Regions from separate parts of the Homo sapiens genome. Here region 1 is linked to region 2. A link means that fine-mapping ties the variant in region 2 to the expression of a gene that starts in the linked region. Tissue or cell type: ovary. Region 2 holds a variant in brackets; the other region holds the start of a gene. All regions are shown on one strand. Distances are between the middles of the regions.

What was found. PIP is the estimated chance that this variant, and not a neighbour inherited with it, causes the effect.
Region 1: BASP1 starts here. The variant in region 2 is fine-mapped to the expression of BASP1 in ovary (GTEx, PIP above 0.99).

The regions. Positions count from the first base shown.
Region 1 is chr5:17,213,846-17,221,951 of GRCh38, reverse strand. BASP1 (brain abundant membrane attached signal protein 1) reads right to left here and starts at 4,321. Exons shown (of 2, transcript NM_006317.5): 1 at 4,142-4,321. It overlaps BASP1-AS1 (BASP1 antisense RNA 1), which reads left to right and starts at 4,530. Exons shown (of 3, transcript NR_027253.1): 1 at 4,530-5,875. RefSeq lists an enhancer at 2,421-3,201 and silencers at 3,236-3,555, 4,046-4,525.
Region 2 is chr5:17,391,479-17,399,584 of GRCh38, reverse strand. No RefSeq gene overlaps it. Among named protein-coding and RNA genes, the nearest start is that of LINC02111, 8.2 kb to the right of the region's middle. The variant T/C (reference allele first, on the strand shown) is at 3,921.

The DNA of each region.
Region 1 (8,106 bases), 180 kb after region 2:
ACACTTAAGTCATTTTTAGATATCATATGTAGTTCTTATTACAACCCCAAAATAGGAATTATTAGATTCTTCAAATCCAGTCTTTATACGATTTCCTGAGAAACCACTCCAAAAACATTACCCCAAAACACATAAAGAGTACTTTATCTTTCAAAATATTCTATTTGCAACCTCACAGTTCCTTCCTAATAGTTGTCCACTATAATTAAGCCAAAGAAAAAAGCTCATGTTCACTGGCTTATCTAATGTCTTAAGAGATACAATAAATTTAAAGGATTAGATATAATTAGAGAAAATTTGATATAACAATAAAGATTCCATGCCCATTTTCAGAGAATATTCAAGTTGTCTATATATCTACTCAGTGTTTTTCCCCAGCAGTTACCTGGTTTCCAGGGTACCAGCTAAGACCATCATTAAGAAGAGAAAGAAGATGTGAAATAAGTAGGTACAAACTACATTAAGATAAAGGTCTGGACAAATCAACGCATTTCTTTCAACAGAATCAGATACCAAGGGCAATTGCTTCTGACAAATAATAGTTCACAGGTCTTCTTTGGATATTTAAAAAAAAAAAAAAAAAAAACATTTACAAGAGATCACAAAAATAAGACAGAACAATTTTATAAATCTTTTATTTAGTAGGCATTGTTTATTCCAGCTTGTAAAGTTCAGTAGTGCTTGATGTAAGTTTTTAAGCCTGTGGATGAACGTCTTAGCTTAATGCTCCAGGTACACTGGGATAAATGGGAAGTGAGCTTATTAATAGACTTGCTAGGCTTTCCCTTTCAAACACATATTTAGAAAGACAGAAATTGATTATGTTCCAAAGACCAGTATCAAAGCACTATAAAATAATATTCTATACCAACCAGTTTGATTTCAAGTTATTCATAAGATTTTAGAGTGTGTATAAACAAGTATGTGTATGTGTACATGTGTATATACATGACACCTTGTTTTTAAAAATGGGTGTGGATTTTGCAATTTTTACAAAACTACCGTAAATAACACAGACATCCATTTTAGAGTGATCAAATCTCCTCCAAATGAAAGTTTCTCTCTGATGTCATACTCCGCTTGACCATGAAATGAAAATGGCTTCAAACTGTTCTTAATTGTGAAATTAAAAAATAAAGAGACAGAACGCATCACCTCTTGCACCATAAGATCCAGGAGGATTATGGATCCTAGTAAATCCAGGATTATGAAGAGGCCTCCAAGGATAGACAGCCTAAATGTTTAGGGCTCTCCCATTGGACCTTTAAACTAGGGTGATGTGGGGAGATAAGGTTCTCTTCTACACGTCACAATGGCAGACTGAGTACCAGTTAAAGAACAGAAATGCCACTGTCATTGTTGGTGCTTTTTATCAAAAGGCTCAATTTCTCTATCTGCTAAAGCTTGGCAAAAAGCTAGCTGGCTAAAAGAATAAGCGAACTGATAGAAATATTTTAATTCTGTAATAATTTTTAAAAATCGATTTAAATATTATCTCACTCAAAAACCTAAGATTTACTGAATTGGGGACATGCTGGTATATATTTGCTATTGAATTTGTTCTATATTCCAACATACCCCTCGCCAAAAACACAACCTAAAGGAAAAGAAAAAAGAAAGAACGTAGCTCTCTAAATCATAATAACCTACTCAATACTAAGGAGTACAGAGGGTACAATCCATGCCACCTAGAAGACAGCTAGACAGCCACCGTAGCCAGTAGATGGGCCCTGATATATTAAACGTGGTCAATATCAAGTTCTCATCAAAAAGGACAAAAGAGATGATTTCCATTGCTGCCACGCGTTATTCCACCAGGATGTACTGACAGTACTTAAGCATAAAACCCTATTAAACATAACCTACCACTGCAAAAAATATCATATTTGGCTCCTATTTAATATACACAATAAGTCCCTTTTTGTGTGGTAAAAACAAACTACCTGAAAATAAATCTAAATGGCCATAACCTGGAAAATAGATCATCTGAAAGAAAATCAGCCATCAAAGGTATATCATGGCTTCTGTTAGGTAATGGGGAAAAAGGAATCATTGCGAACCTAATCAACCAGCTTCACCCCAACGACTGCCTTCTTTCTGCCCCCATCAGATTTCCATCTGGACGCCATTCGCCTTTTGGAATCCTTAATGAAACAATGAGTTCGGAGTCCAGAGAAAACAGAAAGGGTTAGGATCCCGACAAGGTAATCGTTTTCTTCTCTCCGGTTTTTGTAGGCCATCTTGTTCGAATAAACGCCAAGATGTCTTAATTTTCCCCAGGTGGTGTCACTGGAGGCAACGCCCACTGACAGTTTTGAGGCCACCTTCCCTTAATCAAATGACCAAAAAAGATCTGTCAAACGGTTAATTGATGCAAATTAAGAAAGCCACCCTCACTGCAGTAAGATATGTTACAGGAAAAAGAACAATGAACAGTACTAGAAAGGAAAATAACAGTGTGCGGGTACAAAATATTTAATCCACAATTTGCCTTCATCCTCATCAAGGCAAATCTTAATTTTGGTCAATTGAAATCAGCAAGAAAGCAAAAGATGAGAGACAGCCTGGAAAAGAAGAAACACACACACAGGCGGGAAAAACTGTCATTGGTGTCCAAGGGTTTCCCGCAACATTTAGGGCAAACGCCTTTGTTCCTCGGCTCGGGAGGGGAGTGGGTGGCTGGATGATGGAGATGGGATGGGGCTGCCGGGCCCTCCACACCCTGCTCTCCGGCGCATGCGCGAGGCCAAGACAAAGGAATAGGTAATTACAGTCCCGATTCATTCATTTTGCCTGCAGTATACTGGGGGTCTGTTGGCCCGGGCTGTAATCCCGGGAGGTGGGGGTGGGGGGTCGGTCCACAACCCTATAGCAGAAGGCCATTTCGACGCTAGTGTTGGGTTTTAGCCCGCCCCACAGTGCGAGTGGCCGCGGGGGAGACAGAGGTGTTGTCAACCTGTACAAGGTCCTAAAAAATGCACCCATGTGTGCTGTGCTAATTTCAGCAGAGTGAGAATTACATGGGCAAGGGCTGTCCACCGAGTTCGTTTCAAGGCGGAAATGTCTCTGGGGACGCAGATAAGGAGCCTGGCCAAGCGTTCGATGAATATTCATGAAAAGAATGCGGTTTGCAGCCGCGCATTGTGCGTGCGATCGGATCCAGGATTCCGCAATTTTTATTTTTCTGGAAATGGAGGGGGGACGGGGGCGGGGGGAGCAGGAACCGGGCGCCGGGTTTCAGCTTTAGCGCTTTGGGCAAAAGCTGCTCAACCCCAACCCTACGCTCCCAGCGGGGCTGAGCCCAGTTAGGGCCGCGCGCTGTCAGGTTCAAGCCCACACCCCCCGGGCCCGGGCCGGGGCCGGGACCCAGGGCGGAGGCGCCTGGCGCATTCTTGGAACCAAAGGCTCGAAAAAACAAACTGCTCCGAGGCAGCCCACGGGTTCGTAGGAAGGCAATTCCGCCACTGACGAGGCTGGGGCTCCGATCTGCTCGGGAGGTGCTTCTGAGTGCACGTCGCCGTGTGAACCTCGTATTCCTTGGCCCCAGAACCAAGATCCAGGAGTCCCATGGGTCGAGAAAACCCGTTTGCCAAAGCAAAAAGCCACCCACTTCCTTCTGATCGGGCCAGATTCCCCATCTTCTTTCTCCCCGGACTCCCGCCCCACCCCACCCCCACCCTCCATCTTTGGCTGCTGCGCCCCTCGCCCCGAGCGCTTTCTCCCAGGCTGGTAAGGGCTCCGATGACGGAAGCGCTCCCTTCAGCCCACAGAACCGTCTCCCCGGGACTCAACGCACTGAGGGGGTTTCGCATTCGGCAATTCCTCCCGTCACCCGCAGCTCCTCTCCCCGACAGCCCCCTCCCCCCAGCTCCGTTTACCAACCTCGCCGCCCCCCTCACCCCTCCACCATGCGAGCGGCTGAAGCCTCCCACTTCTGGGCCCCCCATCACCCGGGATCCCCGAAGTGCGACGGAGCCCTCACAGAGGGACCCCAGGCCCTTGCCGTCCAATCCGGGCCCACATCCCTGCTGCCCGCTGCATGAAGGGAGAGCCCGGGGGCTGCGGGGCGGGGCGCGGCGCGGTGGGGGACGGAGGCCCCCGGGTCCGCGGCGGCGCGGGGCCACCGGGCGCGCCTCCTTACCGGCTCTGGGTGCCTATGCAGCCCCTGAGTTAGCGCGGTGCCGCCGAGAGGCCGGGGTCGCTGGCGTCGTCTGGCTGGTGCCTGGCCGCTGGCGGAGGCTCTCTCCCGGCTCGACGGCGGAGCCCGGAGCGAGGAGCCAGTTGGAGCGCTGCCGCCGCCGTCGTCGCCGCTGCCGCTACTGCCGCCGCCGCCGCCGCTGCAGCCTCTGCATTTCTCGCGCTCGCTCCCCCTCCCCTTCCTGCCCAGTGCCCTCCCCCCGCGCGTCCGCCCGCCCAGCCTCCCTCCTCCCGCGCTCCCCGCCCGCCTCTCTCCCCTCCCTCCAGCCCGGCGCCCCGCCCGTCTCCCCTCCACCCCCTCCAGCTCCATCTCCCCACCCCCTGCACTCCCTCTGCTCCCCTCCCCTCCTCCGGCGCAGACCCTCCCCTCTCCCCTCCAGCCTGGACACGCCCGCCTCCCCTTGACTCCCCCCAGCTCTGGGCCCCCACCTCCCCTCCCCTCCAGCACAGTCACCCCCATTTCTCTCCTATCCGCCATCCTGGTTCCTCCCTTCCCCCCACCTCCCAACTCTGTGCCCCGCCAACGTTTCCTAAATGCCCTCTATTCAGATCCCCCCTCCGCCTCCCCTCTCCTCTCCTCCATTCCTGCGTCCCCCTTCCCCCGCCGCGCCGCCTGGGCTGTCCGTGGACTTCTCCCACTCTCTCACTCTCTCACTCACTCTCTCTCTCTCTCTCTCTCTCTCACTCTCTCTCTCTCTCTCCCCCTCATTTATTTGGAACCGTTGGATAAGAAGTGCTCGGGCTCTCGCTCAGACTTAGGGAGCTGCCTCGAGGTGATGAATGACACCCCCTGGCACCAGCTACCCTTCTCAGACCCCAGTCCAGCCCGCTCCCGACGTCGACTACGATTCCGCTACCTCGGCTGGCAGCGAGGTTGGGGTGAGCCCCAGCTGCAGGCGCGTCTGGGCTGCGCCGCTGCAAACGAGTTGCGCACCTTGGGCGGCTCCGCACCTGCACCCGCACCCGCGGGGCTCAGCCCCGAAGGCTGCAGCTTCGGGGGAGGCGCGGTCGCCGAGGTCCAGCTGGTGGGGCGAGAGACGTCGCCCCTCGGAGGATGCTCTCGGAACTTGGGAGAGGAAGGAGGGAAGAGAAGAGGGGAAAGGGGCCGTCGATGTTTTTGATGTCTGTGCTTTAATGGAGGCCACCAATATTGAGAAGACGGGGTTGGCCGAGGCAGCCCGCACGCTGCTGCTTGCGAGCGCTCGAGTCAAAGCTAGGGCCAACCGCGGCTTGTCCGGGTGCCCTAAGGGGGCGGACACTTGGTTTAGCACCGGGACACAGAATAGCCACCGGGGTAGGAAGATGCGTTCACTTTGCTTACCTGTTGGCAAGAGGGACATACAAAAATAACGTAACGTGACATCGTTGACAACGGTAGCTCTTTGATTACACAAAAGCCAATTTTACCTTCCCGCAAAAGCCAGTTGACGCCTTTGGAACTTTTATTTGCGGCATTTTGGCGCCCTCTGGCTGTGTTTGGATCGCTTTCATGCTCGCCTGCGTCCCAGCCAAGAAAAAATCGATGGAGCTGCAGGTTGTCCTCAGGATGGTTCTGCCCTCAGGACCTGGGCGTGAATTCAGGGACAGGGTGGCCCTCCAGAACCGGAGTGACAAACTGTAACCATACTTAGGGAGGCAGACGTCAAAGGCAAGTACATCTGTATTCAACTGGGTAAAGGTAAGTGCATTTTCACTTAACAGGAAAATTAACTTATCGTAACTTTAACGTACATATTTGAATTAAGCAAAGTGGCAATATTTACTCAACTGCACTAGCGATTTTGCAGTGGAAACACTTGACGACCCTACTGTACACATTTACAGGTCATAGGAGGCAGCACCAAATTAGATTAATGCATGCCAGCTGGAAATGTTCAAATTTAAACCAAAGGTAAGAAAAAAGCGGGAACTGTTTGTTTTTTCCTGTTTCTCTTTCTGCCATTTAAAGTGAAATAAAAAGTTAGTGTAGTAAAATACCAGGGAAGCAAATTACAAATGAGGTTGCTTCTAAAGCATTTTATTCTTTTGAATATTTATTTCCCTCACACCAGTACACCATCTATAAAGCTAAATGGAGGATGCAGGTTTTCCCACCTCCTTTTGGGGCCAGATATTTCTTTGTTGTGGAAGGCTGTCCTATGCACTGTAGGATGTCTGGCATTCATTGCTGGCCTCTACTAGCAGCCAGTACCACCCTCCACACACACCACCAGCACCAGCACCAGTTGTGACAACCAAAAATGTCCCCAGATATCGCCAAATGTCTCCTGGGAGGCAAAATCACTCCAGGCTGAAAACCACTGAGCTACATTTTCTTTCAACCTCTATGAGCAAGTCTCTAGGTTTTTACCCTATCGAATTAGATGAATATTTGCAATGTTCTGCTCAAGACATTTCCTGAGTTTGTTAGAGGAGCTGCCTACTTGTTCATTTAGCATTCAGGGTTTTTATCCTTGTGATCTTCCAGGCATGTAAATCATCTAAAAATTAGCAAATACATTTCCTCATTGTATTTGCAGTCTAAGCCTGTGGGTGTTATCTTCCTTCTCTATTCTCTTTTTCCAATTTTTCCAAAAAAAAAAGACAACATAAAAATTAATGTTCAGTACCTTCAGTGCTTCCAGCTAAATTTTCATGATGGAGAAAACAAACCTTTCAAAGGTGTGATTGGAATACAGATCACGGGTTACCATAGAAACCGGAGGCAAAAGCTTACACCAACAAGGAGAACTGCAGGTCTCCTTAATTTTGTCTTCCATCAGATTTAGTTGTTCTCTTAAAACATTTTTTTAAATTTTTTTAAAGGAGGGTGAGAATTCATTTTCAATGAGATAATGATGCAACTGACTGATAGTGCTATTAATCTTTAGAAGCTTTTACAGAATTTGTAGGTTTGCAGCAAATGGTTGCCAAAATGTTACCTCTCAATGTAACAATATTACTATATAAAATCCAATTTGGCGATGTTTTTAGTCTAATTTTTAGTTGTTCATCTAATATCATACTTTTTAATGTGTATGCTCTTTAAAACATTTTTTTAAACTGATGCTTAGGGAATAAATGAATAAACCTTTAAAGTTCTGAATTTTAGAAAACTGTTAACATTAACTATTGTGAATGTGTCTGTTTACATTATAGACTAATGATCTTGAGAACAAATATTAAGGGTGTAATTTATGATAAATTTAATTAGCTTTCACCATTATGCTCATGAAAAAAAGACTGTTTTACTCTCCAAATGGAATGAATGCATTTGTTTTTGACAAACAAAGCTGGATTTCATCGGTTATAAACTGAATTCCATTGTCATTTTTAATTGCCTGCATAACTTGCTCCAGGGAAGCATAACCTGCATTATGAAAATCATTATCCAAAAGATAAATTATTCGTGATTACTAATTTTTTTCTAAAAGATTTGTCTTTGCTTGCAATATAATGGTCTCATTGTCATTTAAATTACTAGTCAGTTTACAAAAATTTCCATGTGCCTTCAGCTTTTCAAATCATATCTATTGTGTCAACTAAGACACCTACAATAGATAATTATACAGACCTCATCAAGCCTCAAAACCTCACTCTTATCTTCCCTCTCCCCACCTCCCACATCACCCACCAAGGCCTAGCGTCTTTCTCAGTTCCCCATCCTTTCCTCTTAAATAGTAAAAAGAGGATTAAAATCTCAAATAAAAGATGTAGAACAAGAATGAAGCAGAAGCATGGTGACAGTAGTGTCACCCGAGTGTGACTCTAGCCACCTTTGCTTGACATCTTTCTGGATAGTTCCTGTTCAAGGCCACTGCATTAACCCAAACCCTCAGAAACCCATTTAGAGAATTTGAAAGTAAATTCAGCTCTACTGGTAAGTTTTCCGTGGAGGACCAACTTGCTGCAATTTGTTTACAAAATCTT
Region 2 (8,106 bases):
GGGACGAACTCAAATTTTTGCTCTAAAAATGAAAATCCTAATATATAGGATAGATAGGAATTGGATTCAGCAAACTATATGCTATACAAACCTGAAAGTTGCCTCTAATTTCCCAACTGGTAATCTCAATTCTATAATCATGGGCACAGAGTCCATTCCCCAGTGGTCTCAACTCACTTTGGGAGCAGACCGTGTTTACCTGCCACAGTTAGAGAACAATCTTCCCAGTCTTGCATTTCTTCCTTTAGAGAAGGAAGAGCTGAGGTGCAGCCACCTGTTGCACCTTCTGCAACCCTCAAGCTACCAAAATTGTACTTGACAACAGTTTGTTGAAAAATGGACAGAAGTGCCAAATATCCATTTGTCTATTCAAATGTACAAGCCACCTTCCTAGTGAAATGTTGGTTGCAATTGCATTTGAATTAAACTTTAGAGTAGGGGGGAAAGAGACGTGTACATTTCCACTTTTCAGTTCCTTTAAATGCTAAATAGACATCATGATATTCAGTCAGTCCTGCTTCCTGAGGTTATTACCAGGCATGCAAAAGAAATACACTGAACTCTTTTAAGGAAGTGCAGAATATGTGATATTGAAGTATGACAATATAATACCTTAATTAAGGAGTTAATTTTCTATTTCCTCTAATGAATATAATCAACCGCTACCTCTTTGTTCTCCAGTCCATCACTTAATTAATCAGTTCCTCCAAGCAAAGTGAACATATTCTGGTCCCTGAATAAAGTGGAGAAATATCTGCCATAGTCCGTCAGCCTCCAGGCACAGCTGTGTGGAGTTATCCACATCCACAGCCTCCCCTTGCTGGGGCACCGGTAGTCCATGGTTAATGCAGCCCTGGATGACTAGGGGAGGGGCTTAAGCTTGATTCAGACGGGAAATGCACAGATGGTTTTCCCACTTATCTGTCAAAGAAAAACCACATTTCATTCTCCCCAGAAGGTAATGCTGCTTTGTAAGAAAAAAAGTGTGGCTCATTTCGTTGAGACTAAATCTGCAGGCAAAAAACTGAATGAGTCAACCATTAGCATGTGGTCAGGAATTTGACTACCAAAGCCAGCATTGGTTTGTCATCACAATTGGGTCAGTAGATAGAAAGCTGTCAGGCATTGAAGGAAATTTTGGAAGGTAAATACATTATATACAGTTCTAAAATATTAATACTACAAATTTCAATAAGATCAGCACCTGAAAAAAAATCTTGAATAAGCATTGAGTAGAAGAGTCCAGTTGTGAAGGGCTTATAGTAAATGACAAGTGCAGATTCTTCTAGAGCCTGTGACCAAGATAAAGCCCTACCACCAACCATGTTTGGGGTCACAAAAGCTGGGTTGCTCAGTTCAACTTCCATTATCTGATAATCCTAGTGATGCTGTAACAATGTACCACAAACTGGGTGGCCTAAACAACAGAAATGTGTTGTCTTACAGTCCTGGAGAATAGAGGTCCAAGATCAAGGTACTGGCAGGGTTGGTTCCTTCTGAGGGCTGTGAGACAGAACCTGCTCAATGTCTCTTGCCAAACATCTGATGCTGGGTTCAAACGATTCTCCTGCCTTACAGAAGTATCATCCTAATCTCTCCCTTCGTCCTCACATGAGGTTCTTCCTGTGTGCCCAATCTATGTCACCAAATAGCCCCTTTTGTTAAGGACAACAGTCACCTAGGACTAGAGTCCACCTTAATGGCCTCATCTTAACTAACCTGCAAAGACCCAATTTCCACATAAGGTCACATTTTGAAGTACAGGGGTTTAGGGCTTCAACATATGAATTTGGGGGAGAAAGGACACAATTCAACCCCTAATATCTACCCTGGGTGTCCATGCTAAGGTCTGAGGGAGGAGGCAAGAATGCTCATCCAGCTAGGAACCTGTTTGCCAGCTGATCACTGAGCATGCATAGGAAGACAAAGCTAAAACTGAGACAGAGAACCGTGTGGCTAGATGGAGTTTGTCAAACCCTAACTTTGGTTTAAAATCAATGAGTTGGCCGGGCACTGCGGTTCACGCCTGTAATCCCAGCACTTTGGGAGGCCGAGGCAGCTGGATCACAAGGTCAGGAGTTTGAGACCAGCCTGACCAACAGGGTGAAACCCTGTCTCTACTAAAATACAAAATTTAGCCAGGTGCATACCTGTAATCCCAGCTACTCAGGAGGCTGAGGCAGGAGAATCGCTTGAACTCAGGAGGTGGAGGTTGCAATGAGCCGAGATTGCACCACTGCACTCCAGCCTGGACAACAGAGTGAGACACCGTCTCAAAAATAAAAAATAAATCAATGAGTTTATTACATTTCCATATTTAGAATTTGATATGGTTTGAGTCTGTGTCACCACCCAAATCTCATGTTCAATTGTAATCCCTGGTGTTGGAGGTGGGGCCTGGTGGGAGGTGATTGGGTCATGGGAGTGGTTTCTCATACTTGAGCACCATCCCACTGGGTGCTGTTGTGGTGATAGTGAATTATCACAAGATCTGTTTTTTTAATGGTGTGTGGCACCTCCCCCATCTCTCTTCCTCCTGCTCCAGCCATGTAAGACAAGCCTGCTTCTCCTTCACCTTCTGCCATGACTGTAAGTTTCCTGAGGCCTTCCCAGAACCTGAGCAGATTCCAGCATTGTGCTTCCTATACAGCCTGCAGAACCATGATCCAATTAAACCTCTTTTCTTTATGAATTACCCAGTCTCAGATATTTCTTTATAGCAGTGTGAGAACAAACTAGTACGGGATTCATCTTTACTTCATCTGAAGATGAAAATGCATTCAAAATAATATGCAAACCTCTTTCTACTTACTTCCATCATAATCCTGCATAGGTCAACATTGTTGGGTGTTTTAGACAAAATATTCAGGAGAGTCAGCAAGGCATTGGACACAAGCCCTTTACTCAGAACAGAAACAAAAAGGAAGAGCTTGTACCAGGACTTTATTTATTTCCTGTCTTCAAACACACAAAATACTGGTCCACTGAAATTGAAAACATTACCAAAATATTATTTTGCATTCCAAATAAGCAAGGGGTAAAGCTCCATCCCTCCCACTCCCTTGAGTGTGGGCAGGACATACTGACTCACTTCAAAGAAAGTGAAACATAGTAACTTTACAGTGTACACAGCTGGTAAGCATGATCTTACCCAAATGATCAAGGACAACATCGCTAGTGATAAATCACGTGTATGTCATGTAACTCTGATAAGATGTGATGAGAATGGTGTTTTGCCCCTGTGTTACTCTACCCCGAAACCCATAACCCGAATCTAATCTTAAGAAAAACATCAGACAAGCCAAAATTGAAGAATAGTCTATACCACACTTGTCCAATACTCTCAAAACTTTCAAGATGATGAAACACAAGAAAAGACTGAGGCTGGGTGAGCTGGCTCACGCCTGTAATCCCAGCACTTTGGAAGGCCAAGGCAGGTGGATCACCTGAGGTCAGGAGTTCAAGAGCAGCCTAGCCAAAATCATGAAACCCTGTATCTACTAAAAACAATAACAAAAAAAATTACAAAAATTAATCAGGTGTAGTGGTGCATGCCTATAATCCCAGCTACTCGGGAGGCTGAAGCAGGAGAATCACTTGAATCCGGGGGACAGAGGTTGCAGTGAACCAAGATTCCAACACTGCACCCCAGCCTGGGTGACAGAGTGAGACTCCAGCTCAAAAAAAAAAAAGACTGAGAAACTGTCACAGACCAAAGGAGATGTGACAACTAAATGCAACGTGGTAGCCTGGTTAGGATCCTGGGATAGAAAAAGACATTAGGAAAAAACTAGTGAAACTTAAATATAGGCTGGAGTTTAGCTACTAGTAACGCACCAATGGTGGTTACTCAGTTTTGACAAATACACCACAGTAATGTGAACTGATAACATGAAGGGAAAGCAAAGCTGCAAGAGAAT[T/C]ATACAGGGACTGTCTGTGCTATCTTTAGAACTTTTCTGTAAACCCCAGATTTTTCCAAAATAAAAAGTGTATTACAAAATATATATAGAGAGATAGATAGATAGATATAGATGTGTCATTATGAAGCAGAACATATCAAGCCTTGTTTTCTACCATATTCAAGTCTAAATATAAACCCACATTTAAAATTCTATGTATAACATAGAGTCCGAAGTATAATACTTTAAATTGGAAAGAAAAAGTAACAAGATGCTGCTCCTTGTTTATCTTATGAAGACTTAGAATTTTCCTGCATTTCAGAATGTTCAAGGGTCATGGTCCATGTCAGGCAGGATTATTCATGACACAAACCATACTGAAACTCCCTGCTCATAAAAGTGAACCTCTTATTCTTGAGCTAATTCAAAAGATAACTTCTATCACATGCCAATGTTACCCAACCTGAACCAAACAAAAAACATCCTAGTGCAGTTTTCTGCCCCAGGTCCTGAGAGAATCTCGGTTTAATGACTTACCATCAAAGTTAGCTTTGGGATGGGGAACGATGTCAGAGACTTTGCCTGTGTTTTTCTTTGAATCTCAAGTACTCAATTTTTCTCACAGTTATTCAAAATTTAAAGCTCTGGTTGTTTGGATTCAGGAAAACATTTTGTTTACATGTATATGAAGAACTCAAAGTAAAAAGAACTCATTTCAAAGTTCATGGAATTTCAAAAAGAAATAAAGCAGACATCCACTGTGAAGTCGTTGCATCATAAACTAAGAAAGCATCCTGCTCCAGACCAGGGGAAAACGTACTATGTTGGAGGAATATAGAGAAGAAAAAGTCCTTCTACAGAGAATCGACCCTATTACCTACACCAAGCAATAAACTTTGAAAAACCTTTGAAGCTAATTTCCACGGCACCCCAGCCTTTCCTGACCCCACAGTTCAGGAGGAGTTCTCTCTTGACCTCCGCTTCTTTGTTCTGTTCAGGCCTTCAACTGAGTGGAGGAGGTCCACACAAATTAGAGAGGACAACTCATTTTACGTGATCTACCGATTCAAATGTTAATCTTATCCAGAAACCCCTCATAGACATACCCAGAATCATGCAGAGACAAATATCTGGGCACCTTGTGGTCCAGTCAAGTTGACACATAAAAGTAACCATCATCCATGCCACTCCTCCCATCAGATGGTGAAGCCCATTCCCCCTCTCCTTGAATCTGGCCTAGCCTGTGACTTGCTTTGACAAATGCAACAGAGTTGAAGTGTTGTGTGACTTAAGGGATCTTGCATCTCCCATGTTTTGCACTTTTAGAAGACAACTAATATGTAAAGAATCTTGAGTTGGGCTACAGAATGATGAGAGAAAACATGGAGAGAGAGAGAGAGATCTGGCAAGCCCACAGACATTGTAGACATTCCAGCTGAGGCACCAGGTGTGGAAAAACTACTTCAATTCTAGAGCAGTAATTCCGGCCAGCAAATGAATGAAATGAGGCTGACTGCTGAGCCTTGTAAAGAAATTAGAGTCAGAGAAAGTTCTGGTGGACTTAAGTCTCTGATTCTAGCCATCTAGATGCACTTTCTCCTGTTACATAAGATATAATTGTTTGCTTCTAATAAATTTTCCCTTTATTTTTAAGCTAGTTAATGTCACTTGAAAACAAATAGGTCTGGCAAAGTGTGGTGGCTCATGCCTTTAATCCTAGCACTTTGGGAGGCTGAAGTAAGCAGATCTCTTAAGGCCAGGAGTTCAAGACCAGCCTTGGCAACATGGCAAAACTTTGTCCCTACTAAAAATGCAAAAATTAGCAAAGCATAGTGGTACACACCTGTAGACACAGCTACTCAGGAAACTGAGGTGTGAGAATCACCTGAGCCCAGGGAGGCAAAGGTTGCCGTTAGCCATGATCATGCCACTGCACTCCAGCCTGGGCAACAGAGTGAGACGGTCTCAAAAAAAAAAAAAAAAAAAAAAAAAAAAAGATCCTGAATAATATTTGCTTCAAGAGTCATTATGAATAGGTTTATAAACTTCCACCCATTAATTTTCCTTGTAGAATGTTCTTCTAAGAAAACAGGCAAAATCCTGGAAAAAAATGTGTGCAAAAAATCAATGCACAGCAATATCTGTCTCATTGCAAAAATAAAAAATAGATAATCTAGATAGCCAGCCATATGGAAATTATAAAATAAATTATATCATCTTTATAACCAATATCTTCAAGATAGTTTTTTTTTTTTGCTATTTTAAACATAAGTAACATTTATAACAGTAGGTTTTAAAAAATAAGGGTAGATTATATGTACAACATGATTACAACTGTTCTAAAAAATATGGAAAAAAGTCTAGAAGGAAATAAACCAAAATTACAGTGTGAATAATATATGCTAAAGCTTCTGGCTCCATTTTACATTTTTATAGCAAGCAATCATTGGAAAATTGTTAGAAAATTAGTAGTTATCAATTACATAAGTTGAGAATATGGCCTTTTCTGTTTTCCTACACTCAGAAGTCTAGGAAATTGATGGGACATTGTGGTCGTGGTCACAGAGTGTTATAAATACTATATTCCAATTTCTTGAATTCTTAGCCATCATATAAAGATGCAAATCATAGGCAGTTCACTACTCTTTGGTATTCAGTTAACCTATTTGCGCTTTACAGAACCAAAATGCAATTGAGATCACTACTGAACAAGGTTCACCTTGTCCACCCCATTGTTGTCTCTTAGTCATGCAGTTAACCACCTAGGGCAACAAGTTTTTTGATGTCCCATGATCATTCCATTGGAGTAATTACATGTTCTCCAGTTCCATTTTTAAACAGTAATTCAATGGAAAATGAAAACAGAAATTCAACAACTTAAGCCAGTTTTCTTTTGCCATATGCTTGGACAACTGGATAAAATCTTTTCATCCACCAATCATTAATAACTTCCAAATTATTGAAACACTCTTTAGAATTATTTAATATTAATACAACATGCTTAACATTGTATTTAAAAAGAAAAAAGAAAAAAAAATGAATTCCCACCCAGTAATTACTACTTGTGACTCATTACCCCAGAACAGACTAACAAAAGAAAATGCTTGACAATTTTTAAGGAGACTCAAATTGCTGCTGTAGAATTATTAAGATAGTTATTACAAGTTATTTGGATATCAGTTAATGGTATAAAGGAACATGTACTAAGTCTTTTCAGGGTGCAAGGATTAAATTTAGTAAGTAGCTAGCCATTCAGGTCAAATTTTTTAATTTTACTTTTTTTTTTGAGACAAGGTCTCGCTCTACTGCCCAGACTGGAGTACAGTGGTAAGATCACGGGCTCACTGCAGCCTTGACTTCCTTGGCTCAAATGATCCTCACACCTCAGCTTCCCAAGTAACTGGGACTACAGGCATGTGCTACCACACCTGGCTAATTTTTTCACTATGTTACCTAGGCTGGTCTCAAACTCTTGGGCTCAAGCAATCCTCCCACCTCGGCCTCCCAAAGTGCTGGGATTACAGGCATGAGCCTCCGCACCCAGCCTTTTTATTTTTTTCCTTTTACCTCTATGTCTATGTTTAACTGTTCTACATATGACCTGGTTACTCAAAATCAGTTAATATATATCTATTTAGTGCTTATTATGTGCTATAAACATGTTGGAGATCTAGAGGGGAAAACACTAGAATACTTTCCTGCCAACATGGAACTGGCTTTCCACCATCCTCTGAGTTCCCCATTTGCATTCAGGGTCTCACATAATCCAAAACTTACACATTGCTTTGCAGTGGAGCCTGTGGCACCTTTTATGGGTGCTGAACAGATCAGAAGCATGACTGCAGACCTAGCACCTGAGAAACATCTCTGATTTCTTTGGGAAGCTTTTTCTTTGTAAATGATTAAAATAAAAACTACTTCAGCCCTCGGCACGATATTCACCCACAGTCAGGCTGCCCCTCATCGGGTACAGACAGGTGTCAAGGTGAGTACCAGCTCTTTCCCCCTGCCCTTCTGTCAGGTAAGCATGATGTTAGATCATCAAGAAAATTTGGCATATTTTTATAAAATAATCATATCTTTCTCTCTCCCAAGGAAATGGTTTGCGGCTGATCAATTTCCCATCCATGTCAACTAGATGAGAAATAAGGAATTGGAATAAGGTTGAAAGATTCAAAATGGGACCACAATAGGGAGGAAAGGGCCA